4 linked regions of the Homo sapiens genome follow. The protein of the gene in region 2 purifies or fractionates together with the protein of the main gene of each other region. This does not show direct contact. Each region holds a gene or a part of one and is shown on either strand. Other genes may lie near its edges.

Evidence for each region.
Region 1: the proteins of RCCD1 (region 2) and RAB3GAP1 purify together in Homo sapiens (affinity purification with mass spectrometry; 2 studies listed by BioGRID and IntAct, with this or other methods). This does not show direct contact.
Region 3: the proteins of RCCD1 (region 2) and TSC22D3 purify together in Homo sapiens (affinity purification with mass spectrometry; 2 studies listed by BioGRID and IntAct, with this or other methods). This does not show direct contact.
Region 4: the proteins of RCCD1 (region 2) and SPAG9 purify together in Homo sapiens (affinity purification with mass spectrometry; 4 studies listed by BioGRID and IntAct, with this or other methods). This does not show direct contact.

The regions. Positions count from the first base shown.
Region 1 is NC_000002.12:135,160,280-135,167,317, forward strand, and holds part of RAB3GAP1 (rab3 GTPase-activating protein catalytic subunit), read left to right. Parts: intron 1-2,275; coding exon 2,276-2,372; intron 2,373-2,468; coding exon 2,469-2,572; intron 2,573-2,706; coding exon 2,707-2,822; intron 2,823-4,314; coding exon 4,315-4,417; intron 4,418-7,038. UniProt on the Homo sapiens protein: Catalytic subunit of the Rab3 GTPase-activating (Rab3GAP) complex composed of RAB3GAP1 and RAB3GAP2, which has GTPase-activating protein (GAP) activity towards various Rab3 subfamily members (RAB3A, RAB3B, RAB3C and RAB3D), RAB5A and RAB43, and guanine nucleotide exchange factor (GEF) activity towards RAB18.
Region 2 is NC_000015.10:90,957,859-90,963,638, reverse strand, and holds the end of RCCD1 (RCC1 domain-containing protein 1), read right to left. Parts: intron 3,740-5,780; coding exon 3,641-3,739; intron 3,312-3,640; coding exon 3,141-3,311; intron 2,615-3,140; coding exon 2,585-2,614; intron 2,022-2,584; coding exon 1,870-2,021; 3' UTR 514-1,869; downstream 1-513. UniProt on the Homo sapiens protein: Plays a role in transcriptional repression of satellite repeats, possibly by regulating H3K36 methylation levels in centromeric regions together with KDM8.
Region 3 is NC_000023.11:107,712,687-107,716,791, forward strand, and holds the end of TSC22D3 (TSC22 domain family protein 3), read right to left. Parts: coding exon of another isoform or gene 4,004-4,105; intron 3,823-4,003; exon of another isoform or gene 3,629-3,822; intron 3,265-3,628; coding exon 3,213-3,264; intron 2,064-3,212; coding exon 1,833-2,063; 3' UTR 535-1,832; downstream 1-534. UniProt on the Homo sapiens protein: Protects T-cells from IL2 deprivation-induced apoptosis through the inhibition of FOXO3A transcriptional activity that leads to the down-regulation of the pro-apoptotic factor BCL2L11.
Region 4 is NC_000017.11:50,963,845-50,970,882, forward strand, and holds part of SPAG9 (C-Jun-amino-terminal kinase-interacting protein 4), read right to left. Parts: intron 7,013-7,038; coding exon 6,863-7,012; intron 2,544-6,862; coding exon 2,428-2,543; 3' UTR 1-2,427. UniProt on the Homo sapiens protein: The JNK-interacting protein (JIP) group of scaffold proteins selectively mediates JNK signaling by aggregating specific components of the MAPK cascade to form a functional JNK signaling module.

The sequences.
Region 1 (7,038 bases), on a different chromosome or scaffold from region 2:
GCTGTTGCAGATTAGTTGAGATTAAAGAGCTATGATAACTAAAGGCAATGGATGATCCTTACCAAGACTTGTAGTGGTTGAGGGAAAGGGTCATAAAAGACACATTTTGCGGCCGGGCGCGGTGGCTCATGCCTGTAATCTCAGCACTTTGGGAGGTTGAGGTAGGTGGATAATTTGAGGTCAGGAGTTCGAGACCAGCCTGGCCAACATAGTGAAACTCCGTCTTTACTAAAAATACAAAAATTGGCCGGGCAGTAGTGGCCATGTGCCTGTAGTCTTAGCTACTCAGGAGGCTGAGGCAGGAGAATCGCTTGAGCCTGGGAGGCGGAGGTTGTGGGGAGCCAAGATCGCACCACTGCACTCCAGTCTGGGCCAACAGAGAAAGACCCTGTCTCAAAAAAAAAAAAAAAAAAAAAAAAAAGACACATATGGGATCAGTTGACAAAACTGCAATAAAGATAGTAGGTTAGATTACAATTATTTTTATCAGTGTTAAATTTATTGTATATAATCAGAATCATTTGCATTTTGATTATATAATAAAATATTTTTAATTTTAGGAAATACAGATATTTTGGGATAAGGGACATGAGTGTGCGACTTATTCTGAAATTATTCGAAACAAGTTTATGTCTATAGTATGTACACACATGAAAGCAGAGAAAGATGCAAGGGATCCAGAACAGAGGAGGGAGACAGGTCATACGTGAATCCAGGTAAAGGGGAATCACATATTTCACGTTATTCCTGCAAATTTGTTTTTCTGTGAATCAGGGGAAAACAAAATTCAGAAAGGTGGGTATTAGCAAGGATGTACAACAGAGGGAACTCATTACTCTAGATAAGAATGTAAATCTGTTGAAACACTTTGTAGGATAATTATGTTGTACATTTCCTAGTTCAATTGTTAGGTATATATCCTAAAGTAATTGCTGTACATGTCCCATTTGCACCAGGAAATATGTGCAATAATGTAATAGGAGCATCATTTGTAATAGCCAAAAACTGAGGAGCTATCCACTACTATTAGTGTAGGAACATTTTAATACAGCAGTGAAAATGAGTAAACTATAGCATATTGGAATGGTATACGAATATCAAAATACTGAATGAAAAAAAGCAAGTCACTGAGGGCTATAAACAGAAACACTCCATTAATATAAAGGTTAAAACTAGACAAAAGTAAACAATATATTATTTAAGGCTACATATGTGAAAAAAACCATAAAGAAAAGCAAAAGAATGATTTGTAGTTAATTCTGGGGATGGAGGGTACACAGGAGGACTTGGAAAAGCCTGGTAACATTCTGTTTCCTAAGCTGGTGTTTTCTTTAAACTATTTCTAATACTCTAGTATGTATATTTCTTAATTTAAAAAAAGTTTCAAATCAGACAAAACTCTCTAAGCCAAAAAAAAGTCCACCACAAGTCATTAAATAAAGCAAATAATAAAACAGTATGTAAGTTATTAATTTTTGTTAAGAAATTACATATGCATCTACATTTTTGTGTTTAAATGGACATACAAGTAGTTTGAGAGGATAAACACGAAAATGTGGTTTTGGGGAAGTAGGATTTCAGGAAAATTTCTGCATCACCTGTATTTTTTTTAAAATTTTGAAATCCATGAGCATTTATCAGTCAGACTCACATTATGAGATTATACTTCTTAAAATTTTTATTGATGTAAAAGAATTGTACATATTTATAGGGTTATACTTCTTTTATCTTTACTGTTGAATAAGGAGCCTAAAGGTAGGGTCCATGTTTTGTACATACTTCTCTGTATTCTTATAATAAGAATTGGAAAAAAAATAAACCAAAACAACTAAAACCAAAAAATGTGTGGGAAGTCACTAACAATGTTTAGAAATATTAAGTGAGAAAAGCAGGTTAAAAGGCAGTATTTTACATATTTAATATTAGTGCCCTTAGTACGTGTATTCTGCGTCTTAAAATGAAAATGCTCCACTGTCAATGGTTGTTTTCTCTTGGTATTGTAATCAGTCGGTAGTTTTTATTTTCTTTGTATTTTCCTTATTTGTGTGTATTACATAAGAAAGCAGAAAAAAATAGAATATTTATAATTATTAAAGATTGAAGTTCTTAGGTGCTTTCAGTAACATTATCCTCACCTTTGGGGTCGTGGCTGCCTATCTGGAGTGCTGTCTTGTTAAGGATTAAGATGAGTGGCTGAGGATTTGCACTTCTGTAAGTGGCTGCTTCATCCTTTGACACCTGCGCTGATCATTTGTGTGCGCTGCACCTCCTTCAGGTGCTGCACTATCTGGCAATCCAGAAACCTGCAGACCTTGCTCGGCACCTGTTACCTTGTGTGATTCATGCAGCTGTACTCAAGGTAAAGGAAGAAGGTAAATGTCATATTTAACTAGTCATTAGTCATTTCCAAAGTGAAAGTATATTTTGCTTAATTTATTTAATGCTGGCTTCAATCTTTTCTAAAATAGAAAGTCTCGAAAACATTTCTTCAGTTAAGAAGATCATAAAGCAGATAATATCCCATTCCAGTAAAGTTTTGCACTTCCCCAATCCAGAAGACAAGAAATTGGAAGTAAGTTTGATGTAGTGTCAGAATCTTGCCAAGTGTTCTCCTCAGTTGGCAAAAATAATTTTTAAGATGCGTTTTCAAAGGGCTTTGCTTTTTTGCCATCTCGCAATGTATGCCTCTTCCTTTTCTACCGCCAGGAAATCATTCACCAGATTACTAATGTGGAAGCTCTCATTGCCAGAGCTCGGTCACTAAAAGCCAAGTTTGGAACTGAGAAATGTGAACAGGAGGAGGAAAAGGAAGATCTTGAAAGGTAATTGCTATTTGGCTAATTCAGTTTTGTCTGCAGTAGGAAAAGCCACCACTCTCTTAAGAAAAATTGTAATAGGATATTAAGACTCTTTTGTGGTAATCATATATTATTTGAAACAAGCATTGTCTAGAGACAGAAATAATTATCATAGCATTTGACCTCTCCCGTATTTCTGAGTCTCTACCAGGTGTTTCCATTCTTCCCACTTTTAGAAACAGTCTCCCAGAGCCTCCTTTTCTAGGGATTCCTTGGTTTGCTCTTGGAGATGTGGTGTCTGGAATTTCTTGTGGAGGAGCTGTTAACTGTGTTGCTCACCCTGCCCCAAAACTTTGTTTTCAGCTGTTACTATTCCTTGACCACAGGGTGCAGGTGCTGAAACCATTTCTGCTTACTGTTCCTAGTTGTTTATTTTAAACAAGATTTGTGATAGCAAAGGTGCACATCCTATGTGCCTTGCGATTATGTTTTGAAAGATTGACCAGATGGCTTTTCTCAGATGAAGCAAATGATTGGGGCATTCTCTTTATGAGACTCGGCACCATTACCAATGGAGCTTAGATCAGTGTGAGGCCCTGTTCATTTTTTGCCCATGTTATTTGGAAGGACAATATTGTTTTAATGTGTGATAAAGTGTTCACAAATTAGCTTGTTCAGTGGCTTAAATTTGTCATCATTTAAAAATTTTCATTAGCCTTTCCATAATAAATGGCATTATTGATGCTAAATAATTAATATTGTATGGCAAGGCATTTGCTGTCTTTTAACAAGTTTGTGTTTGAATTTTATGTCTTTTGTTAGGTGAAGTTTTCTCCCACACTGCTTTGCTCTTGAAAATGTCTTCCTTTTAAATGAGAAGAATAAGCTCTAATCAAGGGACTCGTTTCTAAAATAGTAGAGTATGAATTAGTGAGCAGGTGGTGCAGGTTTGGTGGCTTTGTGCCTTCAACTCTGTTAGTTCCACCATACGTTATCTGTGACATACTTGGAAGTTCAGTGTTTCCAGCATCTAATGGCACAGTTTACAATTGCGACTTTGCCCAACACAAGTATTTTAAGCATATGTGCACGTGTGCGTGCACACACAGACACATACCCCTTAAAAAAAACAAAAACAAATATGGATCATTGCTTTTATTGGATAAATATAACTTGGTTTATATTATACAATTTTTTTTTCATCTTTTATTAACTGTAGCATTTTCTAAGCTTCTAGTCTGAAAAAAATAGACTGAATATTTTTTCTTACACTTTGACAGAGATAGGCTTTAAACATTTTTTATGAGCACAGGTGAAAAAGCAGGAAGATTGTCAGTTAAGTCGATAATAATTCCAAATGTCAATCTTATCTTGCTGTAAAATTTCACTCCAACCTTGTTGGGTTTAGCCAGTATCAGCTTGAGGATTTGTCCACAAAACTCCTGTGGGAGGATGGACGCCCAGTGGCCTGGACAGCTCACTTTCCACCCTTTCATTGCCTGTCTCTGTCTCCTAGGTTTGTGAGTTGCCTGCTGGAGCAGCCTGAAGTGTTAGTCACCGGTGCAGGAAGAGGACATGCTGGCAGGATCATTCACAAGCTGTTTGTGAATGCCCAGAGGGTATGTGAGAGTCATTATTGACTCCATCATAATCTCTCCAAACCTCTACTTGGGAAGAGGCTGTTTTAGTTCCCACACGTGGCTGATCACACTCATGTCACCTGAGTGTAAGTCTGGGCATTGGGTTTGAACACTGAAGAAACAATGACTTCTGAGTCTTCGAAATCCATTTGATTTCTTACATGTTGAATTAAAATGATAAGTATATTCTAGGACCTAAATTTTAAAAATTAGAAGAGTCCAAAATCCATTGTTATAGAAGCTGGCAGGGAGTCAGTTAGCAATGGCCAGTGCTGTGCTGTGGGAAAAAATGTTTACTCACAGGTACTTTCAAATGAGAATGGAGTTCAGTTTTACCATCTTTAAACCCCATGTAGGGCAAAGTGGAGTCACAACTCAGCTTGAATTATAAATATAATTGTTCTTGTAATGGTGAGGAGATCTACCTTTGAGGTTTCCTAGAAAAGAAGAGGAAAACTTCAGATTTTTAGGGCTGTGGAAACAGATTTCAGCACAGAAAGAAAGCCCAGTTTGAAAAATTATCATAACCATTACCTCTAGTAGTGAAAGTAAAGATTTTAAAATTATATTGTATCTTGGTTACTGGCTAAGGGCTCTGGCATCCTACAGATAATTCTCAGTTCAGGGCTCATTAATATTAGGGATTCTGATAAAGGCGTTATGTGCACTAATTACACGCTTCCCCTTATATGGCACTGTGATTACACTAGAATGACCCAGTTTTGAGAGTGTAATTTTCAGAAACAAATAAGAAAAAGAATTTCTATGTGTCTACACGTGGAATAACAACTGGATAATCCCTGTAGAGTTGGTCTGGAGTACAACTAGTTAATATATTCAAATTCATAGCCAAATACACTGATAGGAATTCTTAGCAAGAGCTAAAATCTGAGTTTGTTTATGGGGCAGCTCCCTAAACCTCAGAATTTCAAATTAATAACCAAATATTTATTTCCTTATAAATTAGACTTCTAGCAAACAATAGATGCTTGCTTTGATTTATTTTGTTTTTCTCTCTGGCATGAAAACAAGAACCGAGTTTGGTTCCACATCTGATAATATCTATCCAGTTCACTACCCAGAAGCTTACAAGCGCATTTCCTTGTTAGCTACCAATATGAATGTTCCTCATATTGCAAAAATTCTTTCCTCTTTGATCATTTTTAATAAGTGACATGTTGGCTGGGTGCGGTGGCTCACGCCTGTAACTTTGGGAGGCTGAGGTGGGTGGATCACCTGAGGTCAGGAGTTCAAGACCAGCCTGGCCAATGTGGTGAAACCCTTTCTCTACTAAAAATACAAAAATTAGCTGGGCGTGGTGGTGAGCACCTGTAATCTCAGCTACTTGGGAGGCTGAGGCAGGAGAATCACTTGAACCCGAGAGGCAGAGGTTACAGTGAGCTGAGATCATGCCACTGCACTCCGGCCTGGGTGATAAAACTCCATCTCAAAAAAAAAAAAAAAGTTATGTGTTAAGAGGATTTAAAATGTGAAGTATTTATATTTTTAGTCCTGAGATTGTTACTTATTTTAGATAACTAAGCAAAATTATTTTCCCCAAAATAGAAATAACCTCCTTACCCCCTCTACTGACTGCAAGTAAAACTTTGACAATATAGGAACTTTTATATTTATTTATTCATTTTTTAAAGAGAGGGTCTCACTCTGTGGTCCAGGCTGGAGTACAGTGGCAAGATCATAACTCACTGCAGCCTTGAACTCCTAGGTTTAAGCAATCCTCTTGCTTCAACCTCCCAAGAAGCTGGAGCCACAGGCATGCACCACCACGCCCAGTTAATTTTTATATTTTTTGTAGGGACGGGGTCTCACTTTGTTGCCCAGGCTTATCTAGAACTCCTGGTTTCAAGCAATTCTCCTTCCTTAACCTCCCAAAGTGCTGAGATTATAGGTGTGTGTGAGCTATCACACCTGGCCTAGAAAATTATAAGAAAATATTAATCACATAATCTCACTACCCATTGATGATTTAACATCTAGTATATACATATGTATATATAATTTTAAAAGTAGGGTTATATTATATAATTACTTCATTATTCTTGTTTTCCACTTAATATACTTAAGATATCTTTCAAAATCACTAAATACAGGAACATAGTATATCATCTTTCAGTAGCCTCATTGTATAGCTAACCCCCTTAATGGCTACTGAAATTGTACATCCATCTACATTATGTCATTTAAGAAAAGATTTTAAAGTTTTCAGACCTTGTAGTGAATGTTTTTAGGGAATTGGTAGACTGTGTAATACATATAACAAGCATCTGGTTGGTACATTTTTAAACTCAGTTTTAAATGTCTGGCTGAAGTAAACTGTTAGAATTTATTCATGTAACTTTTCATTAGCTGATACTTTATATCAATTTTACTAATTAGTCAAGATTTTAACACATTTTTTTAAAAAGTTGTGATGTAATTTCACTTGGTGTTTTTATAGCTTATAGTAATTCTATATATTTATAACTTTTCTTTAAAATTATAAATAGTAATAAGCCTTATCATGATTATAGGTATCTCTGGTATGTACATACTTAAATGGAATTCAGCAAATAAATGACTGACTGGATTTCGCTTCAGAC
Region 2 (5,780 bases):
ACAGGGCAGTTCCTCAAAAAAATTTAGAATTACCACACAATCCAGCAATTCCACTCTGGGTATATATCCAAAAGAACTGAAAGCAGAGACTCAAGAGAGTTGTACACCCATGTTCCCAGCAACATTATTGACTGTAGTGAACAACTCAGATATCCACCAATGCACGGATGAATAAAACGCAGTGTATACATACAACAGAATCTTAGCCTTTAAAAGGCAGGAAGTCTAGATACATAAGCTACATCATGGATGAACTTGGAGGACATGCTGCTAAGTGAGATAAGCCAGTCATAAAAAGACAAATACTATGGGATTTCACTTACATGAGGCACTTACAGTATCATAGGAACAGAAGGTTAGGACTGTGGTTGCCTGGGGCTGGGGAAGGGGAGACTGACGAGTTAAGTGTTTAATGCACAGAGTTTCAGCATAGAATGATGAAAAAGTTCTGGAAATGCATAGGGGTGACGGTTGCACAACAGTGAATGCATATAATGTCACTGAACTATGTACTTAAAATGGTTAAAAACAATTTTTGTTTTTTATTGAACATAAATTTTATGTTCAGTATATTTTACCACAATAAAAAAGACCCCATGGGTGGGAAACATTTGCTAAACCACAGACACACACATGCACAAATAGAATTTAACTATAAAGAAAACTACTGATAAGCTTATTTTATCAAAATAAGTTGATACTTGTAAAGCACTTTGAGCCTTACCTGGCATGGAGTAAGCATCACCTAAGTATTAAAATTGGTAATACCAAGAGAGACTGAAACAAACTACATTGTAGCAGAAGATACTCTGAATACTAACTCTCAAAAGACTTGTATCTGAAATATCCAAAAGAAAAATCACTAAGGAAAATACAGAACATTTTAAAAGGCCAGAAAACTTGAACAGGCACTTGACAACAGAAAAACTCCAAGTGGCCAATAAACATATGAACTCTTCGCCTCAAGCAATCTCCCTGCTTAGCCTCCCAAAGTGCTGGGACTACAGGTGTGAGCCACCATGCCCAGCCATCCAAAACAAATGAAAAGCTACTCAACCTCATCAGTATCCAGGGAAATGCCAATTAAAACCAGTGTGCATCTACCTGACATTTTAGCCACAGTAGACCCCACCCTGCTGGGGGCAACAGTTATCTAGTAAAATTAAAGGTATCTCCTGACTTAGCAATTCAACTCAATGTTCTGCAAAGGAACTTGTGCACATGTGCAGAAGACTGCACAAAGAATTATGTGGAATGACCAAAATCAGAAACAATAAAAATGACCATCAACAAGGCTGTATCACTTGAGGTATTATTCATACAACAGAACACCATATAGCATTAAAAATGAACTCCAGGACCCAACAAGGATGGATTATACAATGCTGAGTGACAAAAACGACACAAAAGCACATACACAGGATTCCATTTATCTAACACTCAAAAGCAAACACAACTATGTCGTATAAGGCTGCATACAAGAATGGTAAAATTCAAACGAAAGCAGGGAAATGACTGACAGAAGACGATGACCTGGAATGTGCCCCAATCTCAGCTGCACATCAAATGTACCTGGGATGAGGTGGGTGGAGCTTTGAATCTACCACTATCCAGGCCACACACCTAGAAGCTCTGGTTTCATTGTTTCATTGATTTCATTGTTTTGATTGATGCTGACCTTAGGCAGCAGAGTTTTCAATGCTCTCCAGGTGTTTCTAAAGTGCAGACAAGTTTAGGACCGTGCTTGAGGGTGAAGGGCAGGACTGTGATGGGGAGGGGCAAATATGGGGCCCTTGGGGTGCAGGCAATGGTTTTCCTTGACCTGAATGGGGGTCTCACAGGTGTTGCATATACATATACGTACACATGTCAGCTCTTCCCTTTCTCCACAGCATACACGTAGGTGTTCCACGGCCCACAGGTGACAGCCTTTACTTGGAGTTGCTTATCTACAAAGTATTCCACACGGCGAGGCCGATCCAAGCTGGTGGTGTCCTCGTGGCCCAGCTGTCCATATTTACCTAAAGTGAAATCAGCCCCTTTGCCATCGTCTCCACTGGGTCTTGCTGCTGCTTTCCCTCCAGGAAGGGGCCCAGACTATCAAATGAAGTGCTGGGATTATGCCCCACTGCTCTGTGAATCCAAGAGACCCAGAGCCAGGCAACCTTGGGGATCCCCAAGAGGCTAGTGGCGACCAGCCACTCCAGGCAAGACGCTCCTCCAGACTTCCCTGCTATCCAAGCTAAGATGTTCAGAGCACACACTTCCATCGAATCTTTTTCTCCACCCAGTGTCACATCCACAAAAAGCTGCTTTGTAAGTGCTGGTTGGATACTCCCTTAAGACAGTCTTTCAGAGAGGTAGGCGGGTGGTACCGATATCCTCTCCATGTCTCCCCTGTCTGGCCTCGGACTGAGCGCGCCTATGTCTGTTCCAACCCCAGGGAGGGAGCAGTCCTGTTCCTCCCAGTGACCTGGCCGAGGCCCCTGCTTCCTCCAGTCTTGTTGGCTTTGTCACCTGCCCTGTACTCCCAGGTCTTTCTTCTCCTTGGTTTCAGGGTCACAAAAACAATCCTTTTACTTACCCCAGCCCCAGGTGTAGAGCTCCCCTGTTCCTGAAAGCAAAAGGACAATCGATAGTTGTCACTACGGTTCTTTGGCAAGGCATCTGTCCAGCCCAGCTTGGCACAGCCCACAGCTAGCATATTACAATCCTCATGAGATCTGCCTGGCATGGAACAACATATTCTCTTAACAACTGGCTGATCACACGTGGCATGGCAGAGGATCCCGAGGGAAAAAGTGGCGGATCTTCCTGTGTGCCATGCTACCGAGCGCCGCAGTCTTCCATGCCAGACTGGACAGTCCCTGCTGTCAGAGGCGGCGGCGGGCAGGGAATGTGTCTGTGGCCGTGCAGGGAGGACAGAAAGCATCAGCCTCCCACCAGAAGGAAGAAACTTCTGGGCCTGACAGGCTGGGGAACTACTGTGAAACAACAAGGGGGTTGGGGCTTATCCACTGAGCAAGGTAGCTGCTCTGTATGAGCCACAGAAGCCTTAAGACAGAAGTTTTTCCGTCGACCACACCCCCTTCCGTAGGCACCAGCTCGAGTGGAGCAGAGTGCCTCCCAGCCCCACTCACGTGTCACCACAGCTGTGTGCCGGGATCCACAGCTGGCCTTGACTGCATCTGAGCCCATGGGGAGATCCAGTAATGCCGGGAAGGGCTGGACAGCTATGAAGGGGGCAGGGGCTCCATCCTCAGCCCCACCCGTTCTCTTCACCTGAGAACCATCTTCATTCAGTTCTGTGGCTTCAGAATGATAATAATGATGTGAACACCAACTGAGCCCTGAGCTAAATCTTATTCATGCAGTCACTTATTGCCACAACAGCTCTGAGGTACACGACTGCCTAGCTCCAAAGCTGGTGCTCCCAACCCCTACATTCTGCAGGCAGGGCTGGCACTGCTGCACAAGTGTGTTGTGCCAAGACCGGCATCAGCCTTGCCAATGCTCCCTCCCATAAGGGGCTCACATGCTCCATCTGAGCAGTGTAGCTCTGAGGCCAGCATACAGCCAGGAGTTAGGAATGACAGCCACATCCTGGGGAGACGGCTGTGGGAGCCGAGATGACCCTCACCTTCCCTTGCGACAGTCTCTCCATCCTCTGCCAGGTTCCTGGTGGGCAGGGCCAGCTGCCCTGATTCATTCCAGCCCCAGATATAAATATCCCCAGTCTCTGAAAGAGATCAAGGGGACACATGAAACAGACTGTGAAGCCCCTGCATCCATCCAAACTCTCCTCCCCATCGCATCCGCTCCTGGGGACAACTAAAGCCTGCCCTGCCCAAGGTAGCACTCCAGGCCAAGGCGCTTCCCCTCGGGCCCCAGGGGCTTGTCTTAGGTTCACATCCCCTCAATGCCTTCAGATCACCCTTTAAGTCCCTTACTGGACCTTCTACTTCCATTCTTATGCTGCCAAATAGCCCCTCATTTCAGAAATGTATCCCTAGAAGTACCGCAGTGGTCTCCCTTTCAAAACCACTGGGCCAGGGCCAGGTGCATTGGTTCATGCCTGTAACCCAGCACTTTGGGAGGCTGAGATGGGTAGATCACTTGAGCTCAAAAGTTCGAGACTAGCCTCAGCAATATGGCAAAATCCCTGTCTCTAAATAAGTAAATAAAACAACCACTGGGCCGGCCTGTGCCCCTTTTTCAACTGCACCCACAGCCGGTCCTGATGAAAGCCACGTGCAGCTCTCCCCTTCCTGGCCTCCCACAACACTGGAGCTTTTTGGTTGGAACAGCTGCCTAATTCTAAAAATTTCTAACAATAGCTGCTTTATGAAGTGCTTAATCCATGCTGATGTTTCACATGCTTTTCAAATATAATCACTTAATTCTCACAATAGCCCTACAGGTGGTTTTATGACAATATCACCATTTACGCAGGATCCCTATTTTATTCACAACTGAGGCACAGAGGGGGTTAAGTACCAGGCCCGAGGTCCCAGGGCCCGAGCAATGATCTGAAACTAGGAAGTCTGGTGGGATGTGTCCGTGCTTCAGCCTCTACACTAAACTTAAGGCCTCAAACTCCTTCTGGACCTTGAGTGCAGGGCGTCCCACTGGGCTGTTTCCAGCCCTCTGGTCTCTCCAGCCCAAGGTTGGGGTTTTTTTTTTTTGTTTTTTTTTTTTTTTTAGACAGACAGAGTCTCACTCTGTCACTCAGACTGGAGTGCAGTGGTGTGATCTTGGCTCACTGCAACCTCCACTCACGCGTGGCTCAAGTGATCCTCCAGCCTCAGCCTCCCGAGTAGCTGGGACCACAGGCACGAGCCGCCACGCCCAGCTCATTTTTATATTTTTTGTACAAAGACGAGGTTTTGCCACGTTGGCGAGGCTCAGCCCAGGGTTTCCTGAGCTTGGCAACCAGCCCAGGCCCATTCCATGAGAATATGGTGTGGAGGAAGGCACTGGTAGCTTTTCTTTTTTTTTTTTTTTTTTTTTTGAGACTGAGTCTCGCTCTGTCGCCCAGGCTGGAGTGCAGTGGCACGATCTCGGCTCACTGCAACCTCTGCTTCTCAGGTTCAAACGATTCTCCTGCCTCAGCCTCCCGAGTAGCCAGGACTACAGGCGCACACCACTGCACCCAGCTAATTTTTGTATTTTTTTTTAGAGACGGGGTTTCACCATGTTGGTCAGGCTGATCTCGAACTCCTGACCTCGTGATCCACTCACCTCGGCCTCCCAAAGTGCTGGGATTACAGGCATGAGCCACTACGCCCGGCCCCCTGGCATTGGTAATTTTTTAAGCTTCCAGGTGATCTACGTAGCAGCCAGAATGAGAGCCCCAGACACAGACAAAGATCATCTGTTCCCAGCCTCACCCTCTCTGCATGGGCTCTAACAGCCTAGGAAGGAGCTACACCTGGATCACCAAGTGAAACTCCTCACTCTGGCCAGCTGTGGCACCACCACAGGGACACACTCATCACCATCCTGGTGCCTGGTGGGCACCCCAGTGTCCACCCTGTGCCACACATCATGGCCCCCTAGGCAACTGCAGCGTTTCTGCGTTTTCCTTGGCTCAGCTGCCCCCTCACACTCCATACTCCCTCGGCAGCACTGTTAAGAGACAGTCCTGGCTGGGAGCAGGTGGGGAGAGGAGGGGAGGGGCAGTGAGACCAGTAACAGAGAAGCTAGGAACAAATGCCAGAGTCCAGGCGTGAGTGGGCCATGGTGCAGGCAGAGGAGGCCGAGGGTGAGAGGCATTTAGG
Region 3 (4,105 bases), on a different chromosome or scaffold from region 2:
CAAGTGTCACATGTGGATTGGTATTAAGGAGAATGCATTAAGTGAGCCCAGTGATGTTTTCAGAAGACAGAAGAGGCCCACGCCTGTTGATTTGGTTCCGCTCTTCTCGCTCCCTCCTATGTATACCCTGCCTGTTTCTTTTGGGCCTTCCTCGGGGTATCTTTCCTCCCAAATCACCCCCTCAAGCTACAGTTGTGTGTTATGAGTCACCTTGCCACTCACTCCGAAGCTCTCATATGAAAGCGGAGCAGGAGAGGGAGGAAGGATCTGGGCTTGAGTCCTAATTCCCGTAATAGCCATGTGACTTTGGGCAAGTCACTTAAACTCGCTGAGTCTCAGTTTCTTTATCCAGACAGTGAGGGCAAACAGCATGTCCTTCATATGAGTATTGTGCAGATGACACGAGATCACGGCTGCAGCATAGGCCTGGCACTGACAGGGTGCTCAAGGGATATTCAGGGGGTCAGCAAAACAGCCCCTACTGGGTGAGGGGCCTCTCCCACCCAGTCCATTTATACTCAGTCAGACACCAAGTTTATTTTTAGAAAAACAGAGCAAAGTTTATTGAAATTTCAAGCTACATTTGGAAAATCAAAATCCAAATCCTGGAACCATACATCAGGATAAGGTGTCAAAAAGTGGAAAGTGTTCACTCTCACAAAACCCGCTACAGACAAGCTTTCTGGGCACACCTCCCAGGCTCCATTGGATCAAAGCCATCCCCTTGTTCATCCCTCATCCACAGTAGGACACCATCCTTCTGTTCACTTGAAAGTTTTCCACAATAATTACAAAACAAAACAAAAAACGTTTTCAAATGACACTGTGAAGCCCAAACTGATCTTCTCTCAACCCCATTCTATGTAGTCAGCACCAGTGAATGGTGGGTTTGGCATTCAAAACAGGACTTCACGTTTCAGTGGACAGCTGGGGAAAGGGTTGCAGCAGCAAGGCATCCGTGGCCGCATTCAGAGGCTGGCCCCCCTCCTTGCCTTTACTCTCGAGTCTTACTTAACCTAAAAGACAAACTGGGTCAACTTGGTAAATGAACACAGTCAAAGACTTAGCCATAAGAGGTAAGGGACCAGTCAATACTCCCAAGGCTGGTTAGGCCCTTCAACATGTAGGTGGATGTGTATATGTATACATCGCTACACTAAGATACAGATCTAGCCCTATGGGTATATATACGCATTTATGGCTATATAGAAAAACTATGCCAATACTAACCAAACAGAACTTTGTAAGCGGTCATCCCAAAGCTGTAATCCCACACTGGGCTGTGCACAAAGCCATGCATTATACCATATTAACCAACAGAAGGCTGACTTGGCTCAATCTCTCCCATCTGTGTCCCCTGCCTTCACGAAACAGAGGAGAAGAGAGAGGTTGCCTCTGCTTAAAACACAAGTGGCTTCTTCATAGGAACAGTCGTTGTCAGGTGAAGCTGTTGAAGATGTCCATGGAGATGAGAAACAGACCCCTTAAACTTTCTGGAGCAAACTGGTGTCACACCTCAAACTACCCTTCTCCTTTGCCAGTTGCAGCTAAGTTGCCCAGGCCCTGGGAGCCCCCAGGGCGCAGTAGCATTAGAGGCTCACTGGCTTGGTGTTACTAGGCCCCATGCAACTCAGCCTCCAGAGACCTGCTCTTGTCAGGGGTCTGTCGCTGGAGTGGACCCAGGTGGCCATGTCCTTAGGACATCTCTTGGCACCAGCTGTGCTAGGTGTAAAGTTCTCCTCGTGAGATGATGCTTGGGGAGCCAAAAACAAACTGGAAAGAACTAGGTAAAACAAGTTTAGTGGCTCTGCCCACCCTGAGGACAGAGCCACTTACACCGCAGAACCACCAGGGGCCTCGGGCACTTGTGGGGATTCGGGAGCTGGCTCTTCAGGGCTCAGACAGGACTGGAACTTCTCCAGCTGCTCTGGGCTTGCCAGGGTCTTCAACAGGGTGTTCTCACGCTCTAGCTGGGAGTTCTTCTCCACCAGCTCTCGGATCTGCTCCTTCAGGATCTCCACCTCCTCTCTCACAGCATACATCAGATGATTCTTCACCAGATCCTGCCAATGAGGGAATCATAACAAAGCCATTCCTTAGCCATCGTGGCCCCTCTGCAGCACCTTTGCTCTGTCATTGGTGTGCCTGTGCTGTCCTTAATGCCAGGGCCCTCCAGCCTTCCCTCAGTGAACTGGTCTGGCAAGTCCAATTCCTCGTTCACCTTTCTCTGAAGCACTTAAACCCTCATTCAGGAGAGCTACATGATTTGGCTTATGCTGGAGTTGAGAGCCCAGCTTTGAACTAGATAGGTTCTCCCCTGCAAGTTTCTAATGACTTTCAAAGCTGGCTGCTGAGGGGCCTTTGGGGTGACACTTCTGCTGTTTGCCAGTGGTTTGCTATGTCCCCCTTTTTACATAAGCCCCTACTGCTGCCGATCCAGATCTGGGGGAAGGGTAGACCTGCAATGCATCCCATACTGTTTGTCTGCTGTACAAATCTTAACCAAGAGAATAAAATTGGCTATTTTAGAGTCTCCTCCCCTCCATATGACCCAGCACATTGAATTGCAGCTGTCCTGCAGCCGGCCAGTTAGCACACAGGACATTGGCCTTGGGGAAAGGTACAGAACTGCCGCATCCTCTCTGAATTTGATGACTGCACTGGGGGCAGGGAAGGTGTCCTTAAGCTCCAGGGCACAATTAAGTGGCTCCCAACCGCTGAAGCCCTAACCCTCTGCAGCCATTGTGGCTGCTCCTTGGAGTATGACCTCTACCTGGTAAGGAGAGGGACAGGGGTGGGGTGCTTCGCTTCCTGTTTCCACCCAACTCCTGACCCCAGTCCAGGCTCTGCAGAGGCACTGCAGTGCTGTTGCATCCAATGAGCTCAGCCCCTTGCCAGCTGCACGATGCACACAAATGCAAGAGTCTGAGCTCCCTGCCCAACAACAGGCCCAGGAGAGAGTCAGAGCCTGCGGCAAAGACCTGAGATGGAGGAGGGAGGAAGAAAGGAGGGAGCCCAGGAAGGGAAGACTGGAAATGCCCTAAAAGGTGCCACTCTAATCAGACTCCACCTCCAGTGCGGATAGGAGGCAGGCTGTCGGCTTCCTCAGGGTTTTGGCTAAGGGCTTTTTCACCCATTCCCTCAATCCTGCCCAGAGTTACATAAGCAGCAGCTAAGTCAGGGGATGAGAATGACGCAGTGATGCCACTCACCATGGCCTGTTCGATCTTGTTGTCTATGGCCACCACGCTGGCTCCGGAGGCACTGCCAAGACAAAAAGCAAAGCGACCCATTACCCACTCGGTTCTACTCTTGAGTACATGGCAGTTGTGGCCAAAGTCCTCCATCTGCCTCGGCTCTTCCTCTCTCTCTCCTTCTCGCCTCCCTGGCCCAGAGTTCCGGACAGTTTGTCCCCAGATCCTTCCTTGGCCCCTGCAGGAAGCTGCATCTCCTCATCCAGGCCGGCTCAGCGCTGCTGCCGCCGCCCCGAGTTCCAACCGATCGGAGCTGCTTGCGAGTCCTGGGGCGCGCAGGCCACCGTGGCCTGCTCGGGCAATATGCAAACAATGGGGCTGTGCGACCCGGGGAGTCCCCCACAGCCGGCCTACAAGGTCCCAGGCAAACCTACCCGGCTCTGAAGCTAGCTAGGAATTCCTTCTCGGCTGGTAAGCTTCCGGCCTTCTCCCAAGCGGCGCACGGCGCTCGGCCAGCCCCCTGCCCAGCCCTGTCTGGTCCTGCCCGCCGCCCCTCTGCCTCCGGCTGCCTCTGCGGCTGCAGCAGCTGGTTTTCACGGCGCAGCGGCCGCAGGGACGCTTCGATGACGGATCCCAGAGCGGCGGTGACCCCCCCCTTCCTGCGTCCCCTCCCCCCCGCCCCTTCCCAGGATGCTGCACCGCGGGGAACAGGGACCGGCGGCACACAGCTCGCTCAGAGACCGGGCTCCTAGCCCAGCTCCGGCCGGCGCCCCGGCTCGGGAGGCGCCGGAGCTGGGGCCAGCGGTTACCTGTTGTCCAGCTTAACGGAAACCACATCCCCTCCAAGCAGAGAAGAGAAGAAGGAGATGGAGAAATTGTGCAGCTGGTAGACCGCCACCTCCATGGGGGTC
Region 4 (7,038 bases), on a different chromosome or scaffold from region 2:
GAAATAAAAACATAGCAAACAAGCTATGGAAAAGTAGCCTACATTTTGGTGCCCTGCAAAAAAGTGACTAAGTAGCTCAAGCAAAAAATTATTCTTTTAATACAGCTTTTACCAAAACAGTTTTAATACATGAGTGGCTACAATTTTATTGTGTACACAATGTGCTTATAGTCACATGTGGCCCAATGGATCCAAATGCCTCCTCTGGCTCATGAAATCCCATGTACTTCACAATCTAGCCTAATCGTGTATATGCATAAAAGCCACTGGTATACTTTTTACAGACATCTTTGTATAATAGTCCAGAAAAAAAAAATCAGTGGTACTTAAGAATGTTTAGACAATTTGACATCTACGTTTGCTTTCTTTTCTTTTCAGTAGTCCTTCTGATGATTGGGGGCCTTTATCCCATAGGTTTATACTGTTAAAACAGTACATAAAATTACATTTAGCTTTGCTTCGGACCGGCGCGGGGGCTCACGCCTGTAATTCAAGCACTTCGGGAGGCCAAGGCGGGTAGATCATCTGAGGTCAGGAGTTTGAGACCAGCCTGGCCAATGTGGTGAAACCCTGTCTCTACTAAAAATACAAAAATTAGCTGGGCAGGGTGGCACACACCTGTAATCCCAGCTACTTGGGAGGCTGAGGCAGGAGAACTACTTGAACCTGAGAGGTGGAGGTTGCAGTGAGCTGAGATCGCACCACTGCATTCCAGCCTGGGCAACAGAGCCAGACTCCGTCTCAAAAAAAAAAAAAAAAATCATATTTAGCTTTGCCTAGAGTAATAGATAAAAAAGGGTAAATCACACATTTTCAAGAAGCTTGAGAGGGAAAAAATTGCAGCATCGTGGTTTTAAAAAACTTATTAAGCAAGAAAATCAGTGAAATCCAGACTTTAATCTATTTTTTGCTTGTTTGTCTGTTTTGAGACAGGGTCTTGCTCCGTCACCCAGGCTGGAGTGCAGTGGTGCTATCAAGGCTCACTGCAACCTCCACCTCCTGGGCCCAGGTCATCCTCCCACCTCAGCCTCCCAAGTAGCTGGGACTACAGGCATGTGCCACCACACCCGGTTAATTTATTTTGTTTTTTTTTTTTGGTAGAGACAGGGTTTCGCCATGTTGCCCAGGCTGGTCTTGAACTCCTGGGCTCAAGCAATCCATCTGCCTCAGCCTCCTAAAGTGTTGGGATTACAGGCGTGAGCCACCATGCCCAACCTATTTTTTTTTTTTAATGGGCATTGTGAATGAAAATATGTAATGTCAACCTTTACTTTATGGTATCTTAGGTTTGTCTTCTTCCCCTTCATAGTTTTCCCCTTTGAGGATAACCCTTCAAGCTCAAAAGGGCACAAAAGCTAAAACGTTATTCACGTACAAAATACCAAGTATATAGCTGTTCTGCAGTTTGATACAGAACAAAAGAAAATAACTTTTCTAATTAAATCCCTCATTCTGTACTTAGGCCAGACTCCATCCCCACTACAGTTTTACTTGTATTAACAGGTTAAGAGCAATCTAGGAACATTTGGCAAACAAGTACATTTTTTACATGGAAAAAACTCAATCAACATCACCATTCTCTGGTACAAGAAATACAAAACACATTTCCTTTAAAAAATCCTCCCAGTGCTGAAGTATCTTCTAAGCTTCCCAGAGTATGTCCTAAGCTTTATAAATAATAAATCTTTCAGACATGTCAGTATGAAAATGAGACTGGTCTCAAAAAAAACCCATCAGAATATTCAGAGAAGTAGGCCTCATAAACTTTAGAGCTCTAATAAGTCAGAAACAGGAAACGTTTATTTAAATAGTGTAGTCTTAATTTCTTTAATATAAAACCCCCCCAAATCTGATGAAAACAAAGTTTTATATACCATATAAACAAGATTTGTCAGATTTGAAAGTGAAAGTTAAAGTAATTTACAGTTAGCTTTTAACCCTCTCGGGACATTTAGATACATCCTGATAATCCATCTTGTATTAGTGTGTGTCAATTTTACAATACACTGGGGAAAACTCAGCTATTGTATTTAACGGTACAGTTTCATTTATCAAGTGTTTCCCATTAATTCCATTATTAGTGACAGCTAACAAGTGACCCCATCAAATGAAGTGAATGACATTAGACTGTGGCAGAGTAAACCACATCTGGATTGCTTTCTATAATTCACCAGTTTGCAGGAAGTAAACATTCTTTGATTTGTTCATAATATACTGAAGTTACCTATAACACTGGTGCAGTAACACAGCTAGTTCCTCTGTATTGTTATGGTAGAACGGATTTTGTAATATAAAGTTAACAGGAAAAAATGCTCACACATTATGTGGTGAAACTTATCTCACAAAAGAGCATTAAATAAAAGGATAGAGGGAAAATAAACCATGCAGAAGAGACGGCTTCCCCATCTCCACCTGTTTCCCATGGGCTCACTCATTGCCATACATCACTTGCCACACTATCAAGTGACTCCTTTCTGCTTTGGTGACAGAAGGTTCAAGTGGAAGATCCTCTCCAAGAAGTTCTGATTCTCCACCTTCATCACCTAGTGAATGATAAGAAGACTCAAGTTAGGCTGAACACATAAAATATAGAATGATGTGAGTCAGATGTAATGCTCGTGGTTAGTCCATGAACAAGATGCCCAAAACTTGTCTGACTTTCACTGGAGAGTAAATAGTAGAAGAAATACTAAGAGTCAGAATCCTCACCCATATTCACCCAAGCCACTGCTTGACTTCAGAAAAGGTTAATTCATTTTTCAGACTGTATTTATAAAATCCAGTTCACTATACTACGTTAAAAAGCCACCCCAACATGTCTGCATACCGATGGTCCAGACATGGGAAGCTAAGAAGGCAATTCTGTGTTCATCCAAAATGAAGAGTCTACTGTCACTTATTTTAAACTAAGAACTGAGAATAGTGTTATAAAATGCGTGAGCACAGGTACAGAGCAAACTAACTAAACCCAAATAACTCACAATTATCAATGACAGGTGTAATGTTCTCCAATTGAAGATAATTGACACAAGCATATGGAAATTAAAATAATTAGCCTGCAGCACTGCAGATGGCAGATTCACCAGCTACTGGGTTTTTCTTCCAATGATTTTCAAGTTTAGGATAGGTTACAAATTAACAGTGTATAATGGAAAAGGAGAAACAAAGAGGTTGGGGTAGCAGCCAAGATACAGGTTCTTCTGCATCACGGCTAAGTGAATGTGATCCATGGTGTCCTGATCAGACACTGGCTTCCAAGGCCCAGTCTGGGGTACACCACACTCCTCTCCATAAGACCCAGTGCAGGGCATACCATAATTCTCGATACAAGCTTGCATCAATTGTATCTGTTGTCACAGAGCAGGGTTATTTTGGCACAACCCAGTGAAAAGTTGTCTAGTGGGATGGATTCTTCAGCAGAATCCTAAAAACATACACACCACAGGACCTAAAGATATATTCCACTGATCTAACAGAATTTTGTAATGTGCCCCATGTGAATTTCAGCTGGACAAAAGAAAATATTGATACTGTTGACTAGAAACAACAGAAGAGAAAAAACCCTAAATATCTGCATTTTTCTCTGCAGGCCAAACTTTCCCTTACCCAGCCCTGTAATGGCCTTTTCACAGCAATATCAAACTAGAGAGAGGAGAACACTCAGTTCAAACTCCCATCTCTGAACTGAAACATACCCAGGTGGTTAGAAGGTAAAAAAATTAAGTTTGGCTCTTAAATTTTAAAAAATTTCAATGAAAAAAATTAACTGGCTGAGACAAAAGGCTGTCGCCATTTCTCTTCTGAGTTGTTCTGAAGATTTTACTTGTAAGAAAATTATCCTGTCTGCTAGGGTCTCTACAGCCTAAGTTTTAAGTTTAAATCATTAAAAATATGGGACTTTAGAATCAATTTCTCACTGTTAAAATATTACAGGAAATGAAAAAGGAAATGGACCCCCAAAAAAGATCAAATTTGATTTTTTACAACAGTATATTCACTATTAAAATTAGCCTATGCTAAAGACAAGTCTGTTTTTCAGGCTGGAAATAACTAGAGATACTGCCAAACCTGGTTAAGCAATTTTTGTTCTATTTTCAGGATCCACAATGGAAGGAATTTTTAGTGGAAATGGAAAAACCACATAGAGATTTTATTAACAAACTCCTCAGTACGGTTCCAACTGACATACTGCACTCCAACACAAAGTTACAAAAATCACCCCAGCCAAGTGGAGTCCCTAACAACTCCTCTCATAAAAGGGAATTCAACAATAGTCAATTATTCAAAACACTTTGAAATGACTCCATTCCTGCTGACATCCCTGGAATCAATTTCTAAAGTTCACACTAACAGCCTTCCCCTCTTAAAAGTGTCAACAAACTTTTTGCATCAGATATTGGTGACACTAATCACATTTGTCACATTGTCATTTAAATGACCCTAATTTTTTTTTATTCCTTTACAGAATTCATATCTAAAGTATTTGTTACTGATCTACAACACTATTATATTCTCTCAAACTGCCTACTGCCTTATGTCTGGGAACTTTTTGAAGCACTGAGATTTTAAGCGAGTCCAAGGGATCAGTTTATTTATAGCAAATAAGCTGGGTGCGGTGCCTCATGCCTGTAATCCCAGCACTTTGGGAGGCTGAGGCAGGTGGACTGTTTGAGGCCAGGAGTTCGAGACCAGCCTGGCCAACATGGTGAAACCCCGTCTCTACTAAAAATACAAAAATTAACCAGGCGTGGTGGCACATGCCTGAAATCCCAGCTACTCGGGAGGCTGAGGCATGAGAATTGCTTGAAACCGGGAGGTGGAGGTTGCAGTGAGCCAAGATTGTGCCACTGCACTCCAGCCTGGGTGACAGAGTGTGAGACTCTGTCTCAAAAAAGAAAAATTATAGCAAATAAATAAACATATTTGTACAGTGTCTTACAATTTACAAAGCACTACTCTTTCACGAGCATCAGTTCTCCATGTTTTCTTTGTACCTCTCTGGCCATTCCTTCTCAGATCCCTCCATAAGCTCTAATGATCTTTAAATGGAGTATGAATTCAGGGTTCTATCCTGGAACCTTTCCTTTTTCTTTCTTTTCTTTTTTTGAGATGGAGTCTCACTCTGTCACCCAGGCTGGAGTGCAGTGGTGTGATCTCGGCTCACTGCAACCTCCACCTCCCGGGTTCAAGTGATTCTCCTGCCTCAGCCTCCTGAATAGCTGGGATTACAGGTACACGGCATCACGCTCAGCTAATTTTTGTATTTTTATTAGAGACTGGGTTTAGCCACTGGAACCTTTTCTTTTAGCTCCTTGGGCGAACTCACCAACCCTCATGGCTTTTAGTACCACTCCATGCTGACAGCCCCCAAATCCCTCCCTCCTAAGATAGAGGACCTGTATATTCAGAAGCCCAGTGGAAATTTCCCACCTAAATCACCACTATGCTCTTCAAGATCAACATGATCAGCACTGGACTCCTCTTTCCGTCCCTCCAGACCTGCTTCTCCTGTTGACAGTCCTGAGCTCTATGGCCCATTCTCTCCTTCCCCACATTCTCATCATGCTTCTTATCTGTTCACACTGTTACTACCTTTCTTGGGCATTCACTTGTTCCCAACTCATTTCCCTAGGTCTAGTCTTGAACCTCCAGTCCATCCTTCACACAACTCTAATCACATTGCTCCTATAGTTCTCTTTTGCTTGAAAGATAAAGTACAATCTTCTTAATCTGGTATGTAAAGGCCTCCCATACTCCAGTCCCTCCCTCCCTTTTGACAACAAATTCATACTTTCTTCTACTCCACACTCTTGTCATTTTAAAATAGTTTTTCTTCCATTAAAATGGTTTCATATCTCTAAACCTTTGGCCAAGCTATTCTCTTACCTCGGAGTGCCAACCCCTGGTCCTCCCCACCCCATTCCCCAACCTGACCCTTTGTGCTAAGACTATGCAGTGCTGAGTCACCTCAAGCATCATTTCTTGACTTCCTTCTCTCCCTACCCTTGGAAAGAACTGACTACTCACTACCAGAGCATCAGTAACATTTTAATTTATTAACATGTCTCTATCTCTGCACTGTTCTATAATCTATTAGACGAAGGCTTTGTCTGATTTGTTTCTGTATCTCCAGTTTAAGAATGACAGGTACACAGTAGGTGCTCAATTAATGTTTGTTAGGTGAGAAAATGAACAAATGAAGTTGTTTAAGAAATATTTTTATTTCTCCATTTTGACAGAAAACCGAGGCTCTAAGAGGTTGAATGACTTGTCCAAGGCCTTCTGACCCTAAATCCTATGCTTTTCACATAAAACTTCACATTGACCACATCCTGCTATTTCTAATGCTCCTTTCAAACAAATACATTTTGGTATGAAAAGAAATACCAAGGGCCGGGTGCGGTGGCTCGGGCTTGTAATCCCAGCTGGAAGGCCGAGGCAGGCGGATCACTTGAGGTCAGGAGTTTGAGAATAGCCTGGCCAACATGGTGAAACCTTGTCTCTACTGAAAATACAGAAACTAGCCAGATGTGGTGGTGCATGTCTGTAATTCTAGCTACCTGGGGGGCTGAAGCAGGAGAATCACTTGAACCTGGAGGCAGAGATTGCAGTGAGCTGAGATCATGCCACTGCACTCCAGCCTGGGTGACAGAGTGAGACGTCATCTCAAAAAAAAAAAAAAAAGAAAGAAATACCAAAAAGAAAAAAACAAAAAACAAAAACCCACAAAATCCTTTCGTGTGTAAAGAGCTCAAAGAGAACCTCTTATAAATCATTATCAGAGTGGTTTCTTATTTACTTTGGGACAAAACCCAAGTCATAGCACACAGTGCAAACTGAGCACCCAGAACCAATGACATACCCATTCGGAAGTCGATGTAGCCCTCTCCTCCACTGATGACAAGCATAGACTTCAAGGGCGTCTGACTACCAGGCTCCTGTGCAGATGGCCCTGCTTTGTCACCCGTCAGATCCGTGCCACTACTGCTACTTTGTGGGCTGATGACTTGACCTGTTTTATACAGAAACAAAAGTGAA